Linked DNA regions of Homo sapiens: all the other regions are linked to region 1. Evidence: fine-mapped expression QTL. A gene starts in region 1. Each other region holds a variant in brackets. All regions are shown on one strand. Distances are between the middles of the regions. Region 1 holds the start of SYNGR2 (synaptogyrin 2). Region 2 overlaps TMC8 (transmembrane channel like 8). Region 3 holds the start of TMC6 (transmembrane channel like 6).

Evidence for each region. PIP is the estimated chance that this variant, and not a neighbour inherited with it, causes the effect. A credible set is the group of variants that fine-mapping cannot tell apart.
Region 2: its variant is the best candidate, but not a certain one, in a credible set for the expression of SYNGR2 in monocytes after LPS (Fairfax 2014, PIP 0.85).
Region 3: its variant is the best candidate, but not a certain one, in a credible set for the expression of SYNGR2 in whole blood (INTERVAL, PIP 0.84).

Annotation. Positions count from the first base shown.
Region 1 is chr17:78,164,487-78,172,652 of GRCh38, forward strand. SYNGR2 (synaptogyrin 2) reads left to right here and starts at 4,095. Exons shown (of 4, transcript NM_004710.7): 1 at 4,095-4,229; 2 at 6,331-6,568; 3 at 7,024-7,163; 4 at 7,253-8,166. The coding sequence starts at 4,131. The coding sequence ends at 7,450. It overlaps C17orf99 (chromosome 17 open reading frame 99), which reads left to right. Exons shown (of 5, transcript NM_001163075.2): 5 at 1,403-1,811. The coding sequence ends at 1,560. RefSeq lists enhancers at 1-75, 7,387-7,456 and silencers at 3,758-4,367, 4,398-4,557.
Region 2 is chr17:78,136,755-78,144,920 of GRCh38, forward strand. TMC8 (transmembrane channel like 8) reads left to right here. Exons shown (of 16, transcript NM_152468.5): 10 at 481-604; 11 at 963-1,060; 12 at 1,251-1,434; 13 at 1,595-1,725; 14 at 1,820-1,978; 15 at 2,408-2,486; 16 at 4,080-6,214. The coding sequence ends at 4,358. Among named protein-coding and RNA genes, the nearest start is that of C17orf99, 5.5 kb to the right of the region's middle. RefSeq lists enhancers at 458-1,099, 620-709, 840-889, 1,090-1,199, 1,380-1,549 and 4 more and silencers at 3,863-4,052, 5,574-5,868, 7,137-7,206. The variant C/CA (reference allele first, on the strand shown) is at 3,572.
Region 3 is chr17:78,123,308-78,131,473 of GRCh38, forward strand. TMC6 (transmembrane channel like 6) reads right to left here and starts at 5,448. Exons shown (of 20, transcript NM_001127198.5): 1 at 5,305-5,448; 2 at 3,470-3,599; 3 at 3,217-3,341; 4 at 2,970-3,059; 5 at 2,419-2,577; 6 at 1,851-1,956; 7 at 1,582-1,678; 8 at 1,217-1,474; 9 at 682-872. The coding sequence starts at 3,525. TMC8 (transmembrane channel like 8) reads left to right here and starts at 7,464. Exons shown (of 16, transcript NM_152468.5): 1 at 7,464-7,544; 2 at 7,974-8,166. RefSeq lists silencers at 1,482-1,731, 3,562-3,611, 3,662-3,741, 5,012-5,541, 8,152-8,166 and enhancers at 4,082-4,331, 7,542-7,671. The variant A/G (reference allele first, on the strand shown) is at 4,140.

The DNA.
Region 1 (8,166 bases):
GAGGGCACAGGAGGCAACCATGCCCACCCTGGCCCCTGCCTAAAGGAAGCCCAACCCAGCTGCCTCCGCCCCCTCCCAGGAGGGTTGCCCAGGGCACCCACCATCGTGCTGGTTGGCAGCCTTGCCTCCACTGCGGCCATCACCTCCAGGATGCTGGGCTGGACCACGTGGGCCAGGTAGGAAATGGGTGCTCGATGCAGGGAGGAGGGAGAGCTGCTGATGGCCTGAGAGGTCCAACCGGGCCCTGGCTGCAGAGCTCAGGTGGTGGGGCTTGCAGGGCAGGGCTGTGGCCAGGGCAAAGAGCGGCCATCACCGCTTACGCATGACTCGAAGGTGTTTATGAGGACCTACTGTGTGCCATGTGCCTACTGAGGCTTACACATTCAAGGCGTTATCGGACCCTGACCAGTGCTCCCAGGTGCCCTGTAACACAGTCTGCTGGCCTCTGGGAGGGCAGTCTCCTAAGTTCTTTATGGGGTCTGAGCAGGGATTGCAGGGATGATGCCTCCAGGAGACCAAGGTGGACCAGGAGCTCCTGCCTTCTGTGAGAACCACCTTGGGCAGTCTTTCCGAGGTGGTGGCAAGAGCCTGGGGCCCAGCCTCCCAGGGTCCCCTCTCCAAGGCCATGGCTTTACTAACATGTAAAGTGACCAAGGCCTTTGTAGTGTCTGAGTGCAGGCACCACAGGCCTGTGTGCTCTGCCTGTCTGGCTTTGGTGGTGGCCAGCCCTGCCTCTGTGAACTCATCTCTCTTTGTTTGGGAGACACTGCCGTGTCCTGGTTCTCATCCTCTGCCCGTGGCCCAGGCCCTTACGTGGCTCTACCAGGAGTCTGTCCTTGGCACTTTCCCATCTCACTTCTACCAAGTCTGTTCTTTCCAGAAGCCAGACTCGTGGGTGAGCCATGTCACCTCGCCGAGCCTCAGTTTTTCCTTCTGTAAAATGGGGTACAGCCTTCATTTAGTGGGGTGAGTAAGCCTCATGTCTCTTCTGCTGGGGCACTGATGTGCTTGGCACCATAAAACTCCCAGAGGCAGGCCGGGCACAGTGGCTCATGCCTGGAATCTCAGCACTTTGGGAGGCTGAGGCAGGCGAATCACCTGAGGTCAGGAGTTCGAGACCAGCCTGGCCAACATGAAGAAACCCCGTCTCTACTAAAAATACAAAATTAGCCGGGCGTGGTGGTGCGCACCTGTAGTCCCAGCTACTCGGGAGACTGAGGCAGGAGAATCACTTGAACCCAGGAGGTGGAGGTTGCAGTGAGCCGAGATCGTGCCATTGCACTCCAGCCTGGACAAAAAGAGCAAAACTCCGTCTCAAAACAAACGAACACTCTCAGACGCCTCGGGAGGGGATGGCTGGGAGGTGAGCCTGCCTGACTTGAGTCTCCACTGCTTTGTCAAGGTGGTGACCAGAAGATGGAGGACTGGCAGGGTCCCCTGGAGAGCCCCATCCTTGCCTTGCCGCTCTACAGGAGCACCCGCCGTCTGAGTGAAGAGGAGTTTGGGGGGTTCAGGATAGGGAATGGGGAGGTCAGAGGACGCAAAGCAGCAGCCATGTAGAATGAACCGTCCAGAGAGCCAAGCACGGCAGAGGACTGCAGGCCATCAGCGTGCACTGTTCGTATTTGGAGTTCATGCAAAATGAGTGTGTTTTAGCTGCTCTTGCCACAAAAAAAAAAAAAAAAAAAAAAGGGTAACTATGAGAGATGGTGGATATGTTAACTTGCTTCGCTATAGGAACCTTTGTGCTATCTATATTATCTATATGAATCCCATCATATCAGGTTGTCTACCTTAAATATACACAAAAACATTTATTTAAAAAAAAGAAAAAAGCCTGCCAGCTGGGATTCTTGGAGTGCTGGTGGCCTTCAGCAAACACAGACACTGTTGGTGTGAGGGCTTCAGGAGGGTCACAGAAATAAGGGGGTCTGTGTGGCCCTGTCCTCGCCTCTCAGGTGCTGTCACATCTCTCTGGGTGTAGGGAGAGGGAGGGGGGCACACTGCGAAAAGGCCCAGCCCCTCCCCCCCACCTGCTCCCCTCTTCCCTGGAGAGGCACCCCACCTCCTGGTGGCCCAGTCCTATGGTTCAACTCTCACGTGGTCCAGCTCACCTGGGTTGACTGTGAGCCCCACCTGGCACACCTGCTGTTGTTAATCTGCACCTGCAACTAGCAAAGGGGGGTCTGGAATTCTTCCGGGTTCAGTCAGCCTGTGATCCCACACCTCTGTCTGTACAACCTCCGCTCCCCACTCCAACACACACAGAGCCTGCCCCAGCCTACCCTGCACCAGACCCTCTGTACCGGTTTTTCTTGGGATGGAGGTAGAGAGGGACGGAGGCGAGAGGGGGCTGAACTGGAACTGGATTAAACTTTGCCATCTGCCTGTCGCCCTGAAAACTTCATTTCTGTTTGCATGCCATATATATATTTTTTTATATGTGGTCTTTTCTTTTTTTTTTTTTTTGAGATGGAGTCTCGCTCTGTCGCAATGGTGCAATCTCGGCTCACTGCAACCTCCGCCTCCCGGGTTCAAGCGATTCTCCTGCCTCAGCCTGCCAAGTAGCTGGGACTACAGGCACGCGCCACCATGCCCAGCTAATTTTTGTATTTTTAGTGGAGACGGGGTTTCACCATGTTGGCCAGGGTGTTCTCGATCTCCTGACCTCGTGATCCGCCTGCTTCAGCCTCCCAAAGTGCTGGAATTACAGGCGTGAGCCACCACGCCCGGCCGATATGTGGTCTTACTCTGTCACCCAGGCTGGGGTGCAAAGGCGTGATCTTGGTTCACTGCAAACTCCGCCTCCTGGGCTCAGACAATTCTCCCACCTCAGCCTCTGGAATAGCTGGGACTGCTAGTAGCTGCCACCACGCCTCGCTAACTTTCGTTTTTGGTTTTGTTTGTTTGTTTGTTTGTTTGTTTGTTTTGTTTGTTTTGAGATGGACTCTTGCTCTGTTGCCCAGGCTGGGGTGTAGTGGCTCGATCTCAGCACACGGCCACCTCTGCCTACCGGTTTCAAGCAATTATCCTGCCTCAGCCTCCCAAGTAGCTGGGATTACAGGCGCTTACCACAACGCCCAGCTAATTTTTTTGTTGTTGTTGTATTTTTAGTAGAGACGGGGTTTCACCATGTTGGCCAGGCTGGTCTCAAACTCCTGACCTCAGGTGATCCAACCGCCTCGGCCTCCCAAAGTGCTGGGATTACAGGTGTGAGCCACTGCGCCCGGCCTTGCACACCATCTTTTTTTTTTTTTTTTTTTTTTTTTTTGACACAGAGTTTTGCTCTTGTTGCCCAGGCTGGAGTGCAATGGCACAATCTCGGCTCACCGCAACCTCCACCTCCCAGGTTCAAGCGATTCTCCTGCCTCAGCCTCCCGAGTAGCTGGGATTACAGGCATGCACCACCACACCAGGCTAATTTTTGTATTTTTAGTAGAGACGGGGTTTCTCCATGTTGGTCAGGCTGGTCTCGAACTCCTGACCTCAGGTGATCCAACCGCCTCGGCCTCCCAAAGTGCTGGGATTACAGGTGTGAGCCACCGCTCCCGGCCTTGCACACCATCTTAAGTGTGACGCCACACTGCCCTTCACAGCCTTGGGGCTCTGCCCAGACCAGGAGGAATGGGGAGGGGGTCTTTGACCCTACCCCAGGCTTAGCCCCAGAGAGGAGGAAAGAGTGGCAGGCCAGGCAGGGAGGGGCTCCAGGGTGTGGCCTGGGTTTTTCAGTGGGATGGGGGAGGGGTTGCTTATGAGCCTGGGTGGGTTCTTGGTAGGTGGTGGGCTTCCTAGAGGAGGCGGTGGGAGGGCAGGGGCAAAGAGGGTGAGCGGTCCTCAGTTCGTCCGTCTTCCCGGGGGACTCTCTGACCCTTTCTGGTCCGTGCTGCGGCCGGCGTGGCCCGGAGACTAGCCCCTCAACCCCGAGGTGGGGTGGACCCGGGTGCTCCGCGGCCACAGCCCCTCCCCGCCTCTAGAAGCGCAGTCCCGCGGCTCGCCCGCCGCTCGCGAGGGCCGCACTTTGCCCTCGGTCCCTAGCGGCGCCTGGCCACGCCCCCGGCGGGTGGAGTCGGGCGGGGCGCCGGGCAGGTTCCTCTGCGTTCCGCGGCGGCGGCAGCGGCGGCGACGGCGACATGGAGAGCGGGGCCTACGGCGCGGCCAAGGCGGGCGGCTCCTTCGACCTGCGGCGCTTCCTGACGCAGCCGCAGGTGGTGGCGCGCGCCGTGTGCTTGGTGAGCCCGGGGAGGGCGGGCCGAGGGCACCCTGGGGACCCCCTCTCCGTCGCCAGGCCCGGCGGGGCCCCTAGCCCACGAGCGCGACAGGTGGCGGCGGCCGCGTCCGGGGCCTGGCGGCGAGCGGGGCCGGCGTCCAGCGTCCCGGGCCCCGCCTTCCCGCCCTCCACAGTCTGTCCCGCTGTCCCCTCCCGGTCCCGGGTCCCGCCACCCACCCCACCCCCAGCCTCGCGCCCCGACGCGGGGTGTCCGGATCTCCGCAGGGAGCGGGCCCCTGCCTCGCTGGCAGTGGGAGGAGTTTGGGGGCGGCTCCCGGACAGGTGGCCCGCACGCCGCGACTCCCAGATTGGGGAGTTCACCGGGACGGGGTTTTCCGAAGCCACGTGGGGTAAGGGAGGGGGCGGGGGGCGACCCAACGCCCGGAAACAGGGTGTCCTTCCCACTCGGGGCAGGCCACGGGTCCGCCTTCCCACCCGAAGTTGAGGGACCCCAAGATGTACCCCCTCCCTGTAAGGTGGGCAATACCTCCAAAACCAGGTTTTGTGTGTGTGTGTGTGTGGCGGGGAGGGGGCCTGTTCTTGGACAGCCAGCCCTGAAAGCTGGAGGGGGTGGCATGAGGGGGCAGGCAGAGGTGGGCCTGCTGTGCCCAGACCATGCCTGGGCCTGGAGCTTCTGAGGTCCTCCAGGGCGCCCACACCAGCTCCCAGCCAGGCTGTGGGATCTGATCGCCTCTGTCCTGGGCTGTGTCCAAGAATCAGGTGCCCAGTGGGTCGGGATGGCAGTGCCAGGAGTCCTGGATGGGCACCCTGCTCCCATCATCCCGGAGATCCGGCTTCATCTCCATCTGGGGGCGGGGCCTGTGACTGCCAGCTCCAGAGCCCTATGGAGAGCTCCCTGGGACAACAGGGCAGGACTGGCAGGGGAGAGTCCTGGGGCCATCCCAGAGGGATCCTGATGCTCACAGACCTGTCCCACACCTGCTGAGGTGGAGCAGGCGTGGGTGGTGGCCTTCAAGTTTAGGGAGGTGGTATGGGGCTCTTCCCAAGGGGCTGGAGCTCCCCTACATCCACCCTGGGTCCTCCAGGTGTCTGAGTTCAGAGCTGTATCCACAGGCCTGAGTTAGTCCCCTTGTAGTGCCCTGTGCATGCAGGGCCCTCTGTGGGGTGGGAGACAGACTGGGAGGGACCAGGATGCCACAGAGGCTGCAAGTCCTTGTGTGGAGACAGCTGGCCAGGCTGAACCAGGGAGGGTTCCAGGGGTTCCAGGAGGTGAAGACACAGGGGCGCCAGCATGGCCTTCCCAAGAGGGCCTGTCCACCTTCACCAAGGTGTTCAGGCAGAGGCTGGGTGCTGTAGAAGTGACTTGGGCTGAAGGTGACGGGGGATGGGTAGTCTTTGTGACTTGGCCTGTCTTGGTTAAACCTCTTTCAAGGTGAGGTTGGGCTGGGGATGGAAGGACTGCCCTTCATCCATCAGGTACCTAAGCAGAATGATTCCTGCAGCAGGCCGATGGGGCAGGAGCAGCCCCTGCCTAGGAGGTCCCTGCCCATTCCCCACCCCTCCCCGGTCCAGGATTCCCAGGGGCAGGCCCCCTGGTGCCTGCAGATTCTCATCCTGGGGTGCATCAGGAAGCACTTTGCTCATCAGCTCACCTCCACAAGTTTGGAGGGGCTAAGATGTCAGCCTCCAAAAGGGGACAGCAGGCTGGGCGAGGTGGCTCATGCCTGTAATCCCAGCACTTTGGGAGGCCGAGGAGGGTGGATCACCTGAGGTCAGGAGTTCCAGACCAGCCTGGCCAACATGGTGAAACCCTATCTCTACTAAAAATACGGGTGTGGTGGAGGGCACCTGTAATCCCAGCTACTAGGGAGGCTGAGGCAGAATTGCTTGAACCCAGGAGGCAGAGGATGCAGTGAGCCGAGATCGCACTATTGCACTCCAGCCTGGGCAACAAGAGCAAGACTCCATCTCAAACAACAACAAAAACCCAAAAGGGGACAGCAGTAGTGGGAGAGGCCAGCATCTGTACACCCCATCAGGGTCCCCGCTGTGTGTGCCCCTCAGGCGGCCACCAGCCCTACCAGGTCCTCCCCTCCCGGCAGGTCTTCGCCTTGATCGTGTTCTCCTGCATCTATGGTGAGGGCTACAGCAATGCCCACGAGTCTAAGCAGATGTACTGCGTGTTCAACCGCAACGAGGATGCCTGCCGCTATGGCAGTGCCATCGGGGTGCTGGCCTTCCTGGCCTCGGCCTTCTTCTTGGTGGTCGACGCGTATTTCCCCCAGATCAGCAACGCCACTGACCGCAAGTACCTGGTCATTGGTGACCTGCTCTTCTCAGGTATCTGCCTGTGGCACCTCCATTTGATCTTGGGGGAGGCATTAACTCTAGGGTTCCGCAGCTGGGAGGGTCTCGGCCTCTCTGGGAGGGGCAGGGAGCAGCTCACTCCTCCAGGGCATTTTTAGGAAAGGGTTTTCAGCTAGTGTTTTTCCGTGCTTGAATGGCACCAGCCCTGCCTGGGGTAGCTAGAAGCTGAGTGGACCTGCAGCACACCCGAGCAGATGGGCTTTGCCTCTGCCCCTTTTGTCCCCTAGGCTGTCTGCTGTGGCCCACCCTGCCAAGGCCCGAGTGTGGGGGACTTTGGAGGTGGCTCCCGGCCCGGCTTCCAAGTCCTCCCCTCCATAGTGTGGAGGCTCCCCCGGGAGGTCCCTGCCCTACCTGCCCGCGTCCCCTCCCAGAGTCCTGGAAAGCCCCTCCCTTTCCATGGAACTGACGCTTCACCCGTCCTCCCCCAGCTCTCTGGACCTTCCTGTGGTTTGTTGGTTTCTGCTTCCTCACCAACCAGTGGGCAGTCACCAACCCGAAGGACGTGCTGGTGGGGGCCGACTCTGTGAGGGCAGCCATCACCTTCAGCTTCTTTTCCATCTTCTCCTGGGTAGGATGGCCAGGGGCCGGTTCTTGGGTCAAGGGTGGTGGAGGGTGGGGTCCCCCACCCACCTGTACCCTGCTGTGCTCCCCCTGCAGGGTGTGCTGGCCTCCCTGGCCTACCAGCGCTACAAGGCTGGCGTGGACGACTTCATCCAGAATTACGTTGACCCCACTCCGGACCCCAACACTGCCTACGCCTCCTACCCAGGTGCATCTGTGGACAACTACCAACAGCCACCCTTCACCCAGAACGCGGAGACCACCGAGGGCTACCAGCCGCCCCCTGTGTACTGAGCGGCGGTTAGCGTGGGAAGGGGGACAGAGAGGGCCCTCCCCTCTGCCCTGGACTTTCCCATGAGCCTCCTGGAACTGCCAGCCCCTCTCTTTCACCTGTTCCATCCTGTGCAGCTGACACACAGCTAAGGAGCCTCATAGCCTGGCGGGGGCTGGCAGAGCCACACCCCAAGTGCCTGTGCCCAGAGGGCTTCAGTCAGCCGCTCACTCCTCCAGGGCACTTTTAGGAAAGGGTTTTTAGCTAGTGTTTTTCCTCGCTTTTAATGACCTCAGCCCCGCCTGCAGTGGCTAGAAGCCAGCAGGTGCCCATGTGCTACTGACAAGTGCCTCAGCTTCCCCCCGGCCCGGGTCAGGCCGTGGGAGCCGCTATTATCTGCGTTCTCTGCCAAAGACTCGTGGGGGCCATCACACCTGCCCTGTGCAGCGGAGCCGGACCAGGCTCTTGTGTCCTCACTCAGGTTTGCTTCCCCTGTGCCCACTGCTGTATGATCTGGGGGCCACCACCCTGTGCCGGTGGCCTCTGGGCTGCCTCCCGTGGTGTGAGGGCGGGGCTGGTGCTCATGGCACTTCCTCCTTGCTCCCACCCCTGGCAGCAGGGAAGGGCTTTGCCTGACAACACCCAGCTTTATGTAAATATTCTGCAGTTGTTACTTAGGAAGCCTGGGGAGGGCAGGGGTGCCCCATGGCTCCCAGACTCTGTCTGTGCCGAGTGTATT
Region 2 (8,166 bases), 28 kb before region 1:
AAACTGATCTAAAAACAGAACCCTTGGCCAGGCGCCGTGGCCCACACCTGTAATCCCAGCACTTTGGGAGGCCAAGGCGGGTGGATCACCTGAGGTCAGGAGTTCGAGACCAGCCTGGCCAACATGGCGAAACCCTGTCTGTACTCAAAATACAAAATTTAGTCAGAAATCGCTTGAACCCAGGAGGCAGAGGTGGCAGTGAGCCGAGGTCACAACACTGAACTCCTGCCTGGGTGACAGAGTGAGACTCGGTCTTGAAACAAAACGAAAACACAGAACCCTTTTTCCCATGAATCGCCTGGAGACTCGGACTCTGAGAACGCACTTTGGACCACATTGCCACAGACAGAGCAGGTTGGAAGGAGGCTGGGCCCAGGACACAACATGATCCCACTCGGACATCAGCCACACCTATAGCCTGGGTAGAGCCCGGTGCCCATGTGCCTGGGCCCCTCCACCTGACAAGGTCCCTGCCCCCAGGTGCGTGGTGCTGAAGCTGGCCAGCTTGGGGATGTTCTCCGTCTCCCTGGGTCAGACCATACTGTGCATTGGCAGAGACAAGAGCAGCTGTGAGTCCTACGGCTACAACGTTTGTGACTATCAGGTGGCTGGCAGCCCGGCGGGGCCTGTCCCTCCCTTCCTTCTCCCCAAAAAGCTCACCTCAAACTGTGCAGAGCCCTGTTCCTGCCCCTTTAGTCACCTTTGAGAGAAGCTGTGAGCAGGGCTGCCTGCACCGCCGCACACCTCCAGGGGGCGCCACTGCTGCCACATGGTGTAGTGTGGCTGCCCTGGCTGTGGGGCTTCCTGCTCTAATCCCATCCTCAAGGCCTGGGTTTCAACCTAACGATTCTATCAGACACCAGGCAAGGCACCTGCACCACAGAAACCCTCACAGGAGGCTAAGGGAAGGAAGGGCCGGGGTGGCCGTGAGTGGTGACGGGTCCCCTTCCCCTGCACCCCAGTGCTGGGAGAACTCCGTGGGGGAGGAGCTGTACAAGCTGAGTATCTTCAACTTCCTCCTCACCGTGGCCTTCGCCTTCCTGGTCACCCTGCCTCGGAGGTGAGCCCCGGGGTGACACCTCCAGAAGGGCGGGGGTGCCGCGAGCATGTTGGGGGTGGCCAGTGGCTACAGCCAAGGGTGAGCGGGTCCAGTGTGGAGCCCGGGAGTAAGTGGCAGGCTGTGGCCATGACCAATACAGCCCACGCATCTGTCTGGAGTGGTGAGTACCTGGACCCTCCCATCCCTGCAGGCTGCTGGTGGACCGGTTCTCAGGCCGGTTCTGGGCCTGGCTGGAACGGGAGGAGTTCCTGGTCCCCAAGAATGTGCTGGACATCGTGGCGGGGCAGACGGTCACCTGGATGGGCCTCTTCTACTGCCCCCTGCTGCCCCTGCTGAATAGCGTCTTCCTCTTCCTCACCTTCTACATCAAGAAGGTGACGGCTCATGGCTGGGGGGTATGGGGTTCGTGCCTCTGGGTGGATGCCTTGAGCTGGGCTCGCCTCCTGCTCCTGCTCCTGCCCCCTTCCCTGGGTGTCAGCCCCCTGGGGTCTGCATAACTCGCTGACTCCTGGTTGCTATTGCTTGCGCCCCCAGTACACCCTCCTGAAGAACTCCAGGGCATCTTCGCGGCCCTTCCGTGCCTCCAGCTCCACCTTCTTCTTCCAGCTAGTGCTCCTCCTGGGCCTGCTTCTGGCTGCAGTGCCCCTGGGCTATGTGGTCAGCAGGTGAGGGGAAGAGGAGGGGGGCACCCAGAGGCTGGCAGGGGCAGTTTCTCACCCAGGACCCTGATGCCAGCCCCACTTGGCCATCTCTCGCCAGCATCCACTCCTCCTGGGACTGCGGCCTCTTCACCAACTACTCAGCACCCTGGCAAGTGGTCCCGGAGCTGGTGGCCCTTGGGCTCCCGCCCATTGGCCAGCGTGCCCTCCACTACCTGGGCTCCCACGCCTTCAGCTTCCCCCTCCTCATCATGCTCAGGTTCTCAGGGCAGCCGGGGCCATGGGAGGGGACACCTGGAGGGGGAGGTCCTTCCTTCCATGGGGGTGGTGAGCCTGTGCACCCCCAACCAGGAGCCAGACGCAGAAAGCCAAGGGAAGCAGGGGCCTCTGAAAAGCAGGAACCTCCTGGGCCCACCCTCTGGGCTGCCATGGGGATTGCAGGATCACTGGGGAAGCACCGTGTCTGGGTGGCTGCAGCTGCTGAGCTATTGGTATTGCTGTGCCAGAGGGGAGGGGATGAGGGGCTCTGCGAGGAAGGAGAGGAGGGTCCCATCCTCAGATACAGCAGTGTGCAGTGAGAAGACCCCAGTACCGCGTATTGTAGAGATTGAGGTGGGGAGAGAGGAAGTCAGGGAGAGGCGCCTGTGGCCCCAGGGGCAACTGACCACGAATCCCCTTCCCACCCAAGCCTTGTCCTGACGGTGTGCGTCTCCCAGACCCAGGCCAATGCCAGGGCCATCCACAGGCTCCGGAAGCAGCTGGTGTGGGTGAGTGTCCTCGGGGCTGGTGAGGGGACAGCAGCTTCAGTGGAAACCCTTCCCTATGTGTGGCCGAGGGCCTAGAACACGTCTGAGCGGGTCAGGTGGGTTCTTCCCACTGGAGGGCGTGGCCTCAGGCTGAGAGTGAAGACGGGGAAGGGGAGGAAGAGAACAGCTCGGGCTCCTGAGACCAGGAGCCAGACCTGGTAAGTACATGACCTTAGGGGCTGGGCCTTTGCCTGTAATCCCAACGCTTTGGAGGCCCAGGCAGGAGGATCGGATCACTTGAAGCCATGAGTTAAAACCAGCCTGGGCAACAAAGCAAGACCCTGGTCTCCACCAAAAATAAGTAATTAATTTTTTAAAAGGAGAATGTGGCCGGGCGTGGTGACTCACGCCTGTAATCCCAGCACTTTCAGAGGCCGAGGTGGGTGGATCACCTGAGGTCAGGAGTTCAAGACCAGCCTGGCCAAAATAGCGAAACCCCGTCTCTACTTAAAAAAAAAAAAAAAAAAAAAAAAACCGGGCACGGTGGTTCGTGCCTGTAATCCAGCACTTTGGGAGGCCGAGGTGAGTGGATTGCCTGAGGTCAGGGGTTCAAGACCAGCCTGGCCAACATAGTGAAACCCCGTCTGTACTAAAAATACAAAAAATTAGCTGGGCGTGATGGTGGGCGCCTGTAATCCCAGCTACTAGGGAGGCTGAGGCAGGAGAATCGTTTAAACTCAGGAGGCGGAGGGGCGGAGGTTGCAGTGAGCTGAGACCGCCCCATTGCACTCCAGCCTGGGCAACAAGAGCAAAACTCCGTCTCAAAAAAGGAAAAAAGGATAACATGGCTGAGTGCAGTGGCTCACGCCGAGGCGTGAAGAGTGCTTGAGTTCAGGAGTTTGAGACCAGGCTGAGCAACATAGCAAGACCTCGTCTCTACTAAAAATCAAATAAATGAGCTGGGCGTGGTGGCGCGTGCCTGTGGTCACAGCTATTCCGGAGGCTGAGGTGGGAAGATCGCTTGAGCCTGAGAGGTCCAGGCTGCAGTGGGCTGTGGTCTTGCTACTGCAATCCTGCCTGGGCAACAGGGAGACACCCAGTTTCCA[C/CA]AAAAAAAAAAAAAAATTACGACTTTAGGCTTGGGGCCAGGGGCTTAATGGAGCTGAGGGAGGAACAGTGACCTGGCTAAGGCGTGGCCTCAGGGTGGGGCCTCTACCGGGGGCGTGGCCTTGGGCTGCTTGGGGACGGACTCTTAGCGGGCGTGGTCTAGATCTGCATGGGGTGGGACCCTAGTGGGGCGTGGTCTCAGGGTGCGTTGGGGGCGGGGCCCTTGGAGGTCGTGGTCTCGGGCGGGGACGTGGAAGGAGTGGCATCTGGCTGCGTTGTGGACGGGACTCCTGAGGGCGTGGTCTAGGGCTGCATCGGGGCGGGACCCTGGTGGGGCGTGGCCCTGGGAGGGTGTGGCCTCGAGCGGGGCGTGGCCTCGGGCGGGGCGTGGCCTCTGGCTACTTTGGGTGCGGGCTGGCCCATGGGCCGCAGAGTTGCTGCCGCTGCTGTCCTCACACCCGCTCGTGGGAAGCAGCGCCTGTCGCAACTCGCCACTTGTTCTCCTCACAGCAGGTTCAGGAGAAGTGGCACCTGGTGGAGGACCTGTCGCGACTGCTGCCGGAGCCAGGCCCGAGCGACTCTCCGGGCCCCAAGTACCCTGCCTCCCAAGCTTCGCGCCCGCAGTCCTTCTGCCCCGGATGCCCATGCCCTGGCTCCCCGGGCCACCAGGCCCCGCGGCCGGGCCCCTCCGTCGTGGATGCCGCGGGACTGCGTTCCCCTTGCCCTGGACAGCACGGTGCCCCGGCCTCCGCCCGCAGATTCCGCTTCCCCAGCGGCGCGGAGCTGTAACCCCTACCCCTGCCTCCCCGAAGCCTCCCTGGGGCCCCTTCAGGCCTCCTTACTCCATCTTCCAGACCCCTGGCGACCACCGCCCCTCTCAGTGGCTCCAGGGCCTCCCTCAGAGGTCCCCAAAGATGGACACACAACCCCAGCGGCAGCAGGAAAAACATATGGGAATTTTCTTTCTATATTTTAATCTCATCCCTTTAAAATGTCTATTTTTTATTGTGTTTTTTATAATATACATAATCTATTAGTATAGTATCTCTTGAATGCGATTTTTTCTAGAATGTGTTCTGCTGATTTGTTTTAGAGCCATGAGTGCAATTTATACACATACATCTATTGGGAATGCTCAGAAGTTGTTTACTGATGGAAGTGCCTTCAGAAGAGTCCGGGAACCACTTCCTAAGGAAGGAAAGAGCTGGCCACAGTTAGAGCAAGCCTGCCTGGGGCCCTGCTCTGTGTTCCAGCTGCAAACTGCCTGCATCATCCCTTCCTGTTACTCTTCCTTCACCTGAGACAGTCGAGGCCACAGCGTCAGCCAGGGCCAGAGCTGGGATTTGAACCCAGGCACTCGGGCTCCAGAGCCACACTGCCCCAGTGTGGGGCTTAGTGGCGGCTCCTGGCCCTGACTGAGGGGCTGACTGAAGCCTGGTGAGAGCGTGCTGGGTCAGCCTCTCCCTGGCGGGAATCCTCTCCGTCCAGTCTTCTAACCTAGCAGCCTCACGTCCACAGAGCTGCCTTGTGAAACTCAGCAGAGCCCTGGCTTCCTGCAGAGCCGTGTTCTCCCAGCCTGCTTCATGGCTCCCTGGTTGAGCCAAGCTTGCGGATCCGTGGGGTGAAGGTACCCGCACCGCCTGGGCCTTAGTGGTATGTACGGGCCTGCATCGTGAGCAGCGGGCGGGGGCCCAGGCAGGTGAGGCAGCTGGCCACAAGGGCAGGGCCCGGCCCCCCTCCCAAGGCTGTGTCTGATATTCTTGAGCCTGTTCGAGTTTCCTTTTCCAAGCCTCCTGTTCTCCCACCCCCACCCCTGCCATGCTGCAGTGACTAAATCTGTGGTTCTCATCCTTGGAGAACACCTGAGTAGCTGCTACAAGCTGGCCACAGCCCAGCGACTCTGATGTGGTTGGGCTGGGTGTGGCCAGCAGCCAGGGCATCGGGACTTTTCGAAGCTCCCAGGTGACTCACCGGCAGCTGGGGATGAGAACTGTCAGGAGGGAAGGTCAGAAGTCCCAGGATGCACTTGAAAAGCCTCTAGCTCCACCAGTGACCAGCTCCTGGCTGGACTCCTGGTCTGGACTCAGCATCAGGGAGGCTCTGGCCTCTCGCCCTCAGGGCTGGGGGCTTCTTCACATGGTCATCAAAGACTTGGCCAGTTCCGCCTCTCCCACGGCCGTCCTTGTCTCACCCAGCATCACGACGCATCAGTTCACCAACAAACACGATTCAGTGCTGCTAGTGCTGGGTCCTGTTCTGGGGGCTGGTGATGAGGCCAAGAGGGAAAGAGGGAGCTCTGTGTTCCATCGAGGGGGCGACAAGCCTGGACCAGATGAAAGTGACTCATGTTGTTAATTAGCGGCTTAGGGCCAAAGGTGGCCCCTGGACCAGTGGCCTCAGCATCACCTGGGAAAAGGTTAGAAATGAACATTCCCAGGCCCCACCTCAGCCTCCTGAATCAGAGCATCCCTTTGGCAAACCATACTGAGAAACAACCACGTGCATCACCAAGCGCTGTGAAGAAGGCAAGCTTTGAGACCTTGAAGGAATCATCAAACTCTGGGCCTCGGTGTGCTCACCCAGGGCGAGACAAAGACGCCATGCTCCTCCAAGTGGCCTCCAAGATTAAATGAGCAATGACTTTTTGTGTGTGTGTTTTTTTTTTTTTTGGGGGGTGGGGACAGAGTCTCTTTCTGTTGCCCAGGCTGGAGTGCAGTGGCAAGATCTTGGCTCACTGCAACCTCTGCCTCACAGGTTCAAGCCATCCTCCTGCCTCAGCCTCCCGAGTAGCTGGGACTACAGGTGCCCGACACCACACCCGGCTAATTTTTTGTATTTTTAGTAGAGATGGGGTTTCACCATGTTGGCCAGGCTGGTCTCTAACTCCTGACCTCAGGTGATCCACCTGCCTCGTCCCCCCAAGGTGCTGAGATTACATGTGTAATCCACCAAACTCGGCCCATACAGTGACTTTTGAAGTGTCCCCATGGGGACCTAGAAGTGCAGTGGCGGCTCCTATTACAATGTGGTCACTGGCCTGAAGGAGCCAAATGGGAGATGATGGGGAGTGGACCTGGGGCCCCCTGTGATCAGGACCACCCAGGAAGACAGCCCAGGGGGCCTCGAGCGATGGGCTTCTTCCCACAGGAGGGCTCTTGGAGCCAGTGACAGGCAGGACCTTGGAGAAAGGGAGGCTTTGGACAGGAGCTGAGGGCAGAGAGGGGGCCTGAGCAAAGATGTGGTAAAGGGGCCACGGTGGAGGCTGGGAAGCTGGAAATCTGAGGCCTCTAGACTGGGATGCAGGGCACACGGGGCCAGTGCGAAGACGGAACCGGTGCTCTGGCAGCGGGTGCCGTGGGCTAGGATGACTTTCTGTAGATGACGGAGCTGGGGGCCATGACCTAACAAGGGGCTCTGCCAGGAGCTTAGAAGTCCTGCCGGGCAGGGAGGGACTCTCTGGGGCTTATTGCAATAGATGCAGTAAAGGTCTCACCAGGTGGGAGAGCCCACCTAGGTGGGGTGTCCCAGCCACCCCCAGCCTTGGGGACTCCTGGGCCCTCCCCTGCCCAGCCCTGAGAGACTGCCCTGTCTTTCTGTGCCCCTGCAACCCCGCTATCCTGGCCAGGGCAGCCCAGAGCAGAGTCCCACCCGCAGGACCTTTCTGGGGACACAGTATGGGGGAGGAAACGCGGAGACGCTGGGAAGAGCATTTGTTACAGAGGACAGTGGCCTCTGCGAGCAAAAATCACAGAACATCAGCCTGAAGCGGGTGGCTAGAGAGCTTTTGGGGGCCCCCAAACTCCACACAGGGTGACCTGGGGGTGACCTTGGAGGCGTGGCTGCTGTGTCCTGGCTTACTCTGCAGTCTGGACAGAGGGGCAGCGCAGCCCAGAGAACTGGTCAGCCAGACCGGTGCACAAGTGATTCCTGGGGGCGGAGGGGTGCAGGAGAGATGTTTGGGTCCCCCAAGGCCTGGGGAAAATGGCCCATGAGTCTGCCTTCGCTCTCTGACCCCAGCTTCCCCACAGACTGGGAAGAGGAAGAGCTCCTCATGAGCTGCCTTAACTCAAGGTTCCCCTGAACACCACCACGTGGAGAAAAAGAGTGAGTTTCCCTGGCCTCCAGGCAAGAGGCTGCCAGCAGCCCAGGGCCTGGGCAGCCAGCCAGCTCCCCAGTGACCTCTGGCTCCCTTCAGTCTTCAGTTCCCTTCCCCACCCGCCTTCAGCAGAAGTGAGAACAGACTTTGGGAAGGGAAGGGAGTTTTACTAAGAAACTAAGAGAAAATGCTCTTGCTCCCCAGCTGGGAGAAACCGAAAACAGAGAGGCCGGTGGGTGCACAGGAGGCAGCCTCCATCCCCGGGACCATGGGTAGCAAGGTGCAGAAACGGACTCATGCCAGCTGGGAGAGGGGGCCACCGAGGGGTCAACAGAGCCAGTCTGCAGTGACCTCCAGGACACCTGCACCTGCCTCCCCACCATCCTTCTGGCCACTCCCTGGTCAGCAGGGCCACTCCCTCAGACCAGCTTCCCAACACACCCAGGCCTCCGGTGCAGCAAGTGCCTGGGAAAGGCTGAGAGGAGAGCTGGGCCGGGGCTG
Region 3 (8,166 bases), 41 kb before region 1:
GAGAATGTTTGTGGAATACGTAGATGCATGGGTGGATGGGTGGATGGATGGATGAATAAATGTGTGGGTGGATGGGTGGATGGATGAACGGATGGGTGGATGAATGGGTGGATAGATAAGGAGGTGGATGGATGTGCGAATGGATGGATGCGTGGATGAATGAGTGGGTGGATGGATGAATGGGTGGATGGGTGGGTTAAACTGAGTGGATGGATGGGTGGGTAGATGGATGAATGGGTGGATGGGTGGGTGGATGGGTGAATGGGTGAATGTGTGAATGGATGGATGGGTGGGTGAATGGATGAATGGGTGGATGGGTGGATGGGTGGGTGAACTGATTGGGTGAATGGGTGGGTAGATGGATGGGTGGGTGAATTGAGTGGGTGGATGGGGGGGTGAATTGAGTGGGTAGATAGGTAGGTGGATGGCTGAATGGGTAAATGGGTGGGTGAATTGAGTGGGTGGATGGGTGGGTGGATGGATGAATGGGTGGATGGGTGGGTAGGTAGATGGATGGGTAGATGGGTGGGTAAGTGGATAGTTGGATAGGTGAGTGGATGAGAGCAGACAGGTAGATGGACAGAAGGAAGAAAGGAAGAGGGAAGAATCAATGAATGGGTCGAAAGATGAATGGATGGATGAGTGGAGCTCGGAGCCTGGGTCATGAGGTGGAGGCATTACCTGTACACCAGGGTGATGCAGGTGATAAAGAAGCTCACGCCCACAGTGGAGAGGTAGGCCAGGGGCATGTTGTAGGGCAGGCCACCCACCCTGGGTGTGCACTGGCTGCCATCCAGGGGGCTGCCACACGGCTGGTTCAGCGTGGCGTTACTGTAGTGGCCGTAGTACATGACGGTGTGGGTGAAGCAACCCTGCCACAGGGAGATCCAGCCGAGTCAGGGACTTTCCCCACGCCCCACCCGACCCTCAGGCCTGACAGCCACAGGGGCAGAGCAGGAGGAGGCCAGGCAGGGGCAGTGAGGGAAACAGGGAGGGGCCTTGGCCACAGCAATCTTGGGCCTCCAGCCCCATGGGAACCCCAGCACGATGAGCATCCAGGGTCATTGAGGGGGAGGCGGGGAGCTGGCTGTGGCCACCTGGAGTCACAGCGGGGCAAGGGTTGGGGGCCCCAGGGGAGCTGGGACAAGAAGGGAACACGGTACCAGGGTAGCAGAAGACAGGCACCCCCCGTCCCCCAGTCCTAGGGCTTCCTCACCGCGCCTGTGAGGAGCTCCAGGCCTGTGCAGACGGGGGCAGGGCCCGGCAGGGCGGGTGGGAAGGCGACCTGAGGGCCCATGATGAAGGCCACCAGCAGCAGCAGCAGGAGGGCATTGAAAGCCAGCAGGGTCTTGAGAAAGAGGAAGTAGGAGAGCACGCTGGAGCCGAACTGGCCCCCGATGCGCTTCAGGGCGTAGCGCCACGGCATCAGGGCCTGCAGGGCGGAGAGCAGCGCCAGGCCCAGGCTGTGCAAGGCCTGCGGGCACAGGCAGAGAGGCCCTGAGGGTGAGGCCGGAGGAGGCACTGAGGCCACCCCAGCCCTGCCCAGCCGCCCCAGCCCCAGGGCAGACCAGGGGCCCATACCAGCACGCAGGCATATCTGAGCCGGCCACAGCAGGAGCAGACCCCGCCGCTGCCCGGCTGGCCCCTCCACTTCCCCCTCGGGGTCCTGCTCTTCTCTCTGGGGACAGAGGCAGCCATAGGTGCCTGGACCAATGAGGGGCCTGACTCTCTCCTTCCTGGAGACCGGCCACCCACGGGCTCAGCCCCTTCTCCCCCACCACCTAGCCCAGCTGAGGAAGTGGGTCTGGGGGCGCAGCAGCGGCGGCATGGTCAGGGTCGGGGCTGCTCACCGCAGGCTGCGTTTCTCAGCCAGGCTTAAGGGCATCCCGCGAAGCATGTGGTCCCGCTGTGCCACTGCCAGGCTCTGGAGCTCCTTCACCAGGAGGCTCTGCTTCTCTGCGAGAGGGAGAGGGAGGTCCTGCCCATCCCCAAGTGCCCCTCCCTGCAGCCCGAAGCCGGGACCCTGGTCAGGCCTGTGTGTCCCTGCGGCACCGTCCCGAGACACCTCGGTGCCCTTATTTGAGCTTCAGTCGCCAATCAGCCGTGTGTTTGCTTCAGTCAGCGACAAGCAGGAAGCTCACAGAGCACAGGGGCCTGTTTCCCACGCACGGTCCCCGACTCGGGGCCCAGGGCCACAGCCCTCCAAGCACTCCAAGGCGCTTGTGAGGTAAGACCCCCACTTCCCTGTCCCCGTGGGTCCCTGCAGAGGGACGGGGGGGCCTTCAGGCAGCCTGCTAAGGGATAGGAGAGGGGCCTCTGGCTCTGCAGCACCCCAGCCACCGCCCAGGCCAGGCTGGCCTCTTGCACCCCACCCCAGGCCGGTGTCCGCCACTGGGGCTCCAGTGCCCACTCACTCACCCTCCTCCTCCAGGGCCGTGGGGTCCAGCTCCAGGTCGTACAGGCGGAGGCTGGGCCAGGCGGAGCGGACAAAGTTCCCGAGCAGGGGCCGGCTGCTCCTGCACCGAAGCTGCACCGTGCGGTTGTAGTACTGGGAGATGATGGCACCTCGGCTGCGGCCTATGGAGGCAGCTGGGCAGGGCCGGGCCGGGCAGGGCCAGGCCTCCCTCCCCTCAGGATGGGCTCACCACAGGCCTCTGCGTCCCTCACCCCTTCCCAGGACCCAGGAAAATCCTTTCAACAAAGACTTCAGGCACCACTGCATTCCGAAAGCCTATTTTTACCCCGTGATGACTCTGGAGTCATTTTTGGAGCCCAGCGAGGGCCACATGGGGCTGTGCTGGGCCCCCAGGCAGCAGATGGGATGGGCTAGGAGCCCGCCCTGGGCCTGGCTCTGAGCTACGGGAGCAGCCACTACCCAGGGAGATGCCTGGCAGGAAGCCCAGCCCAGCCCCAGGGACTGGGGTCAACTCGGGGCCGGGGCCGAGGCCGAGGCTGAGGGTCCCACTCACCAATGGTGCGGCTGGGCATGCTGGCCAGGATGCGGAGTGTGGCCGTGCTCTGGGTGCCCTCGGGCCGCCAGAGTGTCTGCTGGCTACTTCCTACAAAGCAAGAAAGACTCACCAGGGGTCCTGGAGATGCCATTGGCCACAGTATCTCCCACCCCATCCCAGGCCTGCAGAGCTGGGAGGCCCGTCCTGAGGGGCTGGGGCACCCAAGTCTTGGTCCACACCACCCAGCATCCAGGCCTGAGCTCACCTGTCACCTCCCGCTCTCTCTGCTGCAGCTCCAGCCCCTCCTGGGCCGTGCACTGGCTCTGCTCCTGGATGAGCTGCTGGAAGGAGTCGTGCACTTCGCTTTCATCATAGGGGCTGGGGCCCTGGCTGCAGAGGGGGTTGGCGGGGGGGTCAGGCTCCAGCCACCTCTCTCCTTCCAGCAGCCCCTGCTCAGGTGACCTCTCCGTGGGGGGTGGAACATTCCAGCCTCCAGCCCCCAGCCCCAGAGCGCTTACCCCTGGTCCCCTGGGGTCTCAGGGACATCGAGGATGAAGGCCAGTGGCTGGGCCATGTCTCTGGCCAATGCCCGCTAGTCTGCAGACCTAGGGTAGCTCAGAGCCTGGGCGCCACCTCCGGAGCCCCCATCTGATGAGACAGGGGCACAGAGCCAGGGGTGGTCTTCAACGCCTGGCAGCTGTCCACACCACCCATTCCTGGGGGAACCACAGGAGGTGCCACTCACAGCCCAGACAGTCCCGCCCACCCCCCTATCACCCCAGGTACATAAATGGTGAGGCACCGAATAAGCCTCATGCCAGAATGGAATGGGGGGCCCCCTCCAGTGTCAGGGGAGGGGAGAGAGGAAGGAAGGGTGTGGGGTCTGCAGTTCCACATCTGTTTCCTCGATGTCGCCAGTCCCTGGGAAATGGGGAAGAGGTAGGGTGCCTGTAGACACAGCCCCTTTCAGGATCTCCATGCCCAGGGTTCTGGCACAGAGACACCTCCTTTTTGGAGAGAAAGGTCAGAGTAGGCTGTAGGCCTTCTCTGCGTCTGCCCTGTGACCTCAAAGAACTTCCTCTAGCAGGAAATTAGCTGCTGGAGCCCTCACCCCCAACCAGCCCCAGGCGGAAGCAGCACAGGGGGCTCCTCCCCCACACACAGAGGTCACTCCATGCCACCGCCGTC[A/G]GGGCGCCAAGGTCCTCATGTTCTCAGAAGACCCACTGCCCTGCATTCCATCATCCCAGGGCGGCCGGCTGGGGGTGGCCAGGACCTCAACAGGCCTCCTTTGTCCTGGCTCTGCCGTCACCCGGCACAACTGGAACCAGAGCAGCCTTGTCTGGGGCCCTGGGCTCGGGGCCCGTTCATCTGTGAGAGTGGAGCCAGGACTCAGCTCCCAGCCACCAGCGAGTCCTGCCGGCCTCTGCCCTGGACTCCTCCTGCGCTCACCCTCAGGAACTCAGGGCTCAAAGTCGGCCGGGTTGAAGGGCGCTTTCCTCGGACAGGCAAAGCCCGGGGGCGCCCCGACAGAGCAGCTCCTTGCAGGGGTGCCAGTCACAGGACCGGACGGCGCCCTCCCTCAGTGTCCTGGGTGCCATCTTCGGGCCCAGGCCCCACACCACCCCCTCCCTCCAGCAGGAGCAAAGACGTGGGAAAACCAGCCCAGAGCTGGGTCCGAGGCGGCCCCACCCAGCCTAACACGGGACAGCTGCCGAAAGAGGGGCTGAGGACGCCCCACCCAGTCCCTAGAGCTGGAATCCCTTCCTCCAGACAGGCCCTTCTAAGCTCAGGGAACCCGGGGACTCGGGCACCCAGCGCCCCAGCACTCCGCCCCGAGGCCCAGGCAAGTCCAGCGGAGTTTCCAGGCGCACCATTCCTGAGCTAGGTGGGGAGAGGCTGGGTGGCGCCCGTTTCCAGGAACCCCCACCCCAGCCGGCAGCGAGCTTCCCGGGAGCAGCCGCTACCCAGGGAGAACCGCAACCTGGCCCCAGAGCCCAGAGCGGCTGCAACTCTGGGGCCACCGAACCCGTCCAGCCGGCCTCCCTGTCCCCCGCCCCTTCCCATCCCGGCCACACCCCCTCCCCTCCCCTCCCCGTGCCCTGGCGCTCGGCTGGGGGACCTGGGTGGGGGCTGCGGATTTTGCTCCCCGCACTGTCCTCCCCGCCCCTGCCGCTCCCAGCTCTGTCCGAGCCGGAGGGTCAAGCCCTGGGAGCTCCAGGAGCACCCGGGGAGGGAACTCGGCTGCCAAATGGCCCCAGAGGCCGAAAGGAATTCAGGGGGGATTGCCGCTGTCCCCGCATAGGAGAAGCAGCTGGGGCTGGCGGGACCCGGGACCGGGATCGCGGCCGCTCACCTGGGAGGCGCCGGGGAGGAGGGGCCGCGCGCGCAGCCAGGGCTCACCTGTGCCCCGCAAGAGCCGCCGGGAACTGAGGTCTCGGCTCTCCTTGCCAAGGGAGTGGCAAAGGGCCCCAGGGGCGACTGGGCCAGTCGCAGGTCTGCCGGGGCCGGGGGAGTAGCCGCACCTCCCGGCCCACGTGGGCGGGGGGGGGGGGGGCGGGCCTCGGCTATCACGTGACCCGGCCCGGCCCGCGGCGCCCCCGCCCTCCTCCGGGCGCCCCGCGGCGACTATGCCTTCCTCCCCTGCCAACTTCCGACCCCTCCTCCTGAGGTCTGAGCTGGGCTGGATTCATTCCAGCCCCTGGTTGAAGTCCCCAATTTTTCTGACGCTCAGTTTCCCCAAGTTCCAAAAAGGGGCAATATTTCCAGACTCATCTGCTTCCCATGGTTAGGGATCGTCCAAGTAAGATGCCGCCGAAAGCCCCAGGGACACAGAGTATCTCACTCCAGATTGGGCAGCGCCCCCCCCCCCGCCGCCCCCGCAAGCCTCCTGCTGACTCTCCCCGACCCCGGCGGGGGGAGCCTGGTTATCTCCCACTCCTGACACCTGGGCGGGGTTCATTGTTTATCTAGCAAGAGTTCTGGCTCACTTCCTGTGTGCTGTGTGGAGAGGAGGGGATGAAAAGGAGGACACGCTGACACTTAGGTGACTGTCCCCAGGTGCTGTACCCGTTGCCCTGTTTTCTGTTATTCCCCATGAGCCAGGAAGGTATGCACTGATATTCCCATTTCACAGATGAGGAAACTGAGGCTGAGAGAAGTTAATCACCCTTTAGGGTGCCCCCAGCCAAAGCAGGAGACTTAGTGGTCCACCTGGGAACTCTATGGAGGAAACTGCCTTTGAGATTGTACCCCCCACCCCAAGCCCATTTGGAAGGGAGGGTCATTCCTGGCGGGGAGAAGCCATGAAGCAGGCAGGGTGAATGTGAGCTGGGGCCCAGGAGGGCAGGAGAGGGCACTGCTGCAGGGGAGAGCAGGCAAGCAAAAGCGAGGACCAGGCAGGGGTCAAGGCTGGGGCCTTTTGGAGCTGCCAGTGTGGTCCTCAGATGGCTACCCCAAGCTGGTTCTTGGCAAGTGGCACCCTGGCATGGAGACCCAGCCCCTGCCTCTCCTCCCACTGCTTCCCCCTCCCTGCATACCCACACTGAATTTGCATGAATGCCACCTCCTCTGGGGAGCCTCCCCAGATTGAACCCTGGTGGAGCACCTACCACTTCCTATTGACATGTACATCTGTGGTTCTGTGCCCCCTCCTACCCCAGCCCACTGTGTGCCCAGCACCAGCACATAGCTTGCGCCTGACACACAGAAAGGACTCTGGAAACCAGGAAGGAGGTGGGCAGAGAGGCAGAAAAGCTATGAACATTCAGACCTGAGATGACTGGGCCCTATAGCAGGTAGAGAGGGAGCAGAGAGGAAGGGCTGCGGGCTTCCCAGGGGCCCAAGGACAGAGAATTGGCAAAGATATGTCTTAAACATCTAGCCTGGGAGAGCATGAATGGAGCCAATTCCTGAGCACTTACTACCGGCCAGGTGCTAGGCCTGGGTCTTGGCACAACCATAACGCCAATGACAGGGGCTGGAAGTACAGCAGTAACACCAAGAGTATCTGGAAACCCAGCAGCCAGGTTCTGGGGAGCCCACCATCCTGTCATTATCACACCCTCCAGGGTGAGGCCGGCAGATAAAGAGTTTGGCCCCTGTGCCCCCACCGTTCCCATCCCCACCCATGTCAGGCTCCCAGCTCAGGCCTCGAGGTCAAGTCCTGCCTATCCAGGCTGGAAGGAGTTGAACAGAGAGGGCCTCAGCTGCAGGCTGGACATCCCTGGAGGCAGCCAGGCGGCAGACCCGGACCAGTGGACCCTAGGGCTGCAGGAGACCAGGCCCTGACTCCTGTGCAGAGGGGAAGGGTGGGCCACCCGCAGCCCAGCATGCACAGAGCTCCCTGGGAGGCCAAGTGGCCTACGCCTGTCACCTTCACCTCTGCATCTCAGGGGCCCACAGGAAGTGCCTGCTTGGCCTCAGTTTAAAGCAGAGGAAACCATGGGGTGAGAGGGGAGGAGGGAGGTAGTGGAGAGGGAAGCTGGGTTTCCTGTCATATGACCCCTCCTCTGGGCTCCCTCACCACCCTGCCTGGCTTGGCAGGAGTCGTCTGAGAAGGGGACTCCTCCAGGGACTTGGTCCCTAGGTCCCCAGGTGAGCTGGATGTCCAGTGGAGGGAGAATGCAGAGGGTGAGGGGCTGTGGGGGCCAGCTAGAGCCCTGCAAGGGTAGCAGTGGGTCCCTGCTCCTGTCCCCACGGCTGGGGCTGTAGCCACAGGTCCTCATCAGGGGCTCGCGGGGTACCTGGGACTGGAGGCTGGACCACAAGAAGGAAGACAGAAGGGGGTCCCCCGACATCCAGAGTCAGATGTGGCAGATGCCGAGTCCCAGGAACTGTGGGGTTTGGGACACAGGCTCTTCCGGAAGGGCAAACTGCCACGTGGAGAAGAGAGGGAATTGTCTCTCCTTGGGGTGACGGTGGGCCCAGGCACAGGTGGATGCGGGGTGCAGCAGGTCTTGGCTTTCTTTGCCTGTGCCGGTCCAGACTTTCTGTGCCCTTTGGATCTTTCACCCCATTTGACAGATGGGGAGACTGAGGCCGTGGCTGTGTGTCCCTCTGAGAGTTGGAGCGGGGCTGGGCCCGAATTCGACCGCAGCAGGATTCTCTCTCATTTCTGAGCCCCGGAGGTGGCAGAGCGGCAGACCCGGGCAAGTGAACCCTAGGGCTGCAGGAGCCCAGGCCCCGACGCCGGCGCAGAGGGGACGGAAGGGCCCGC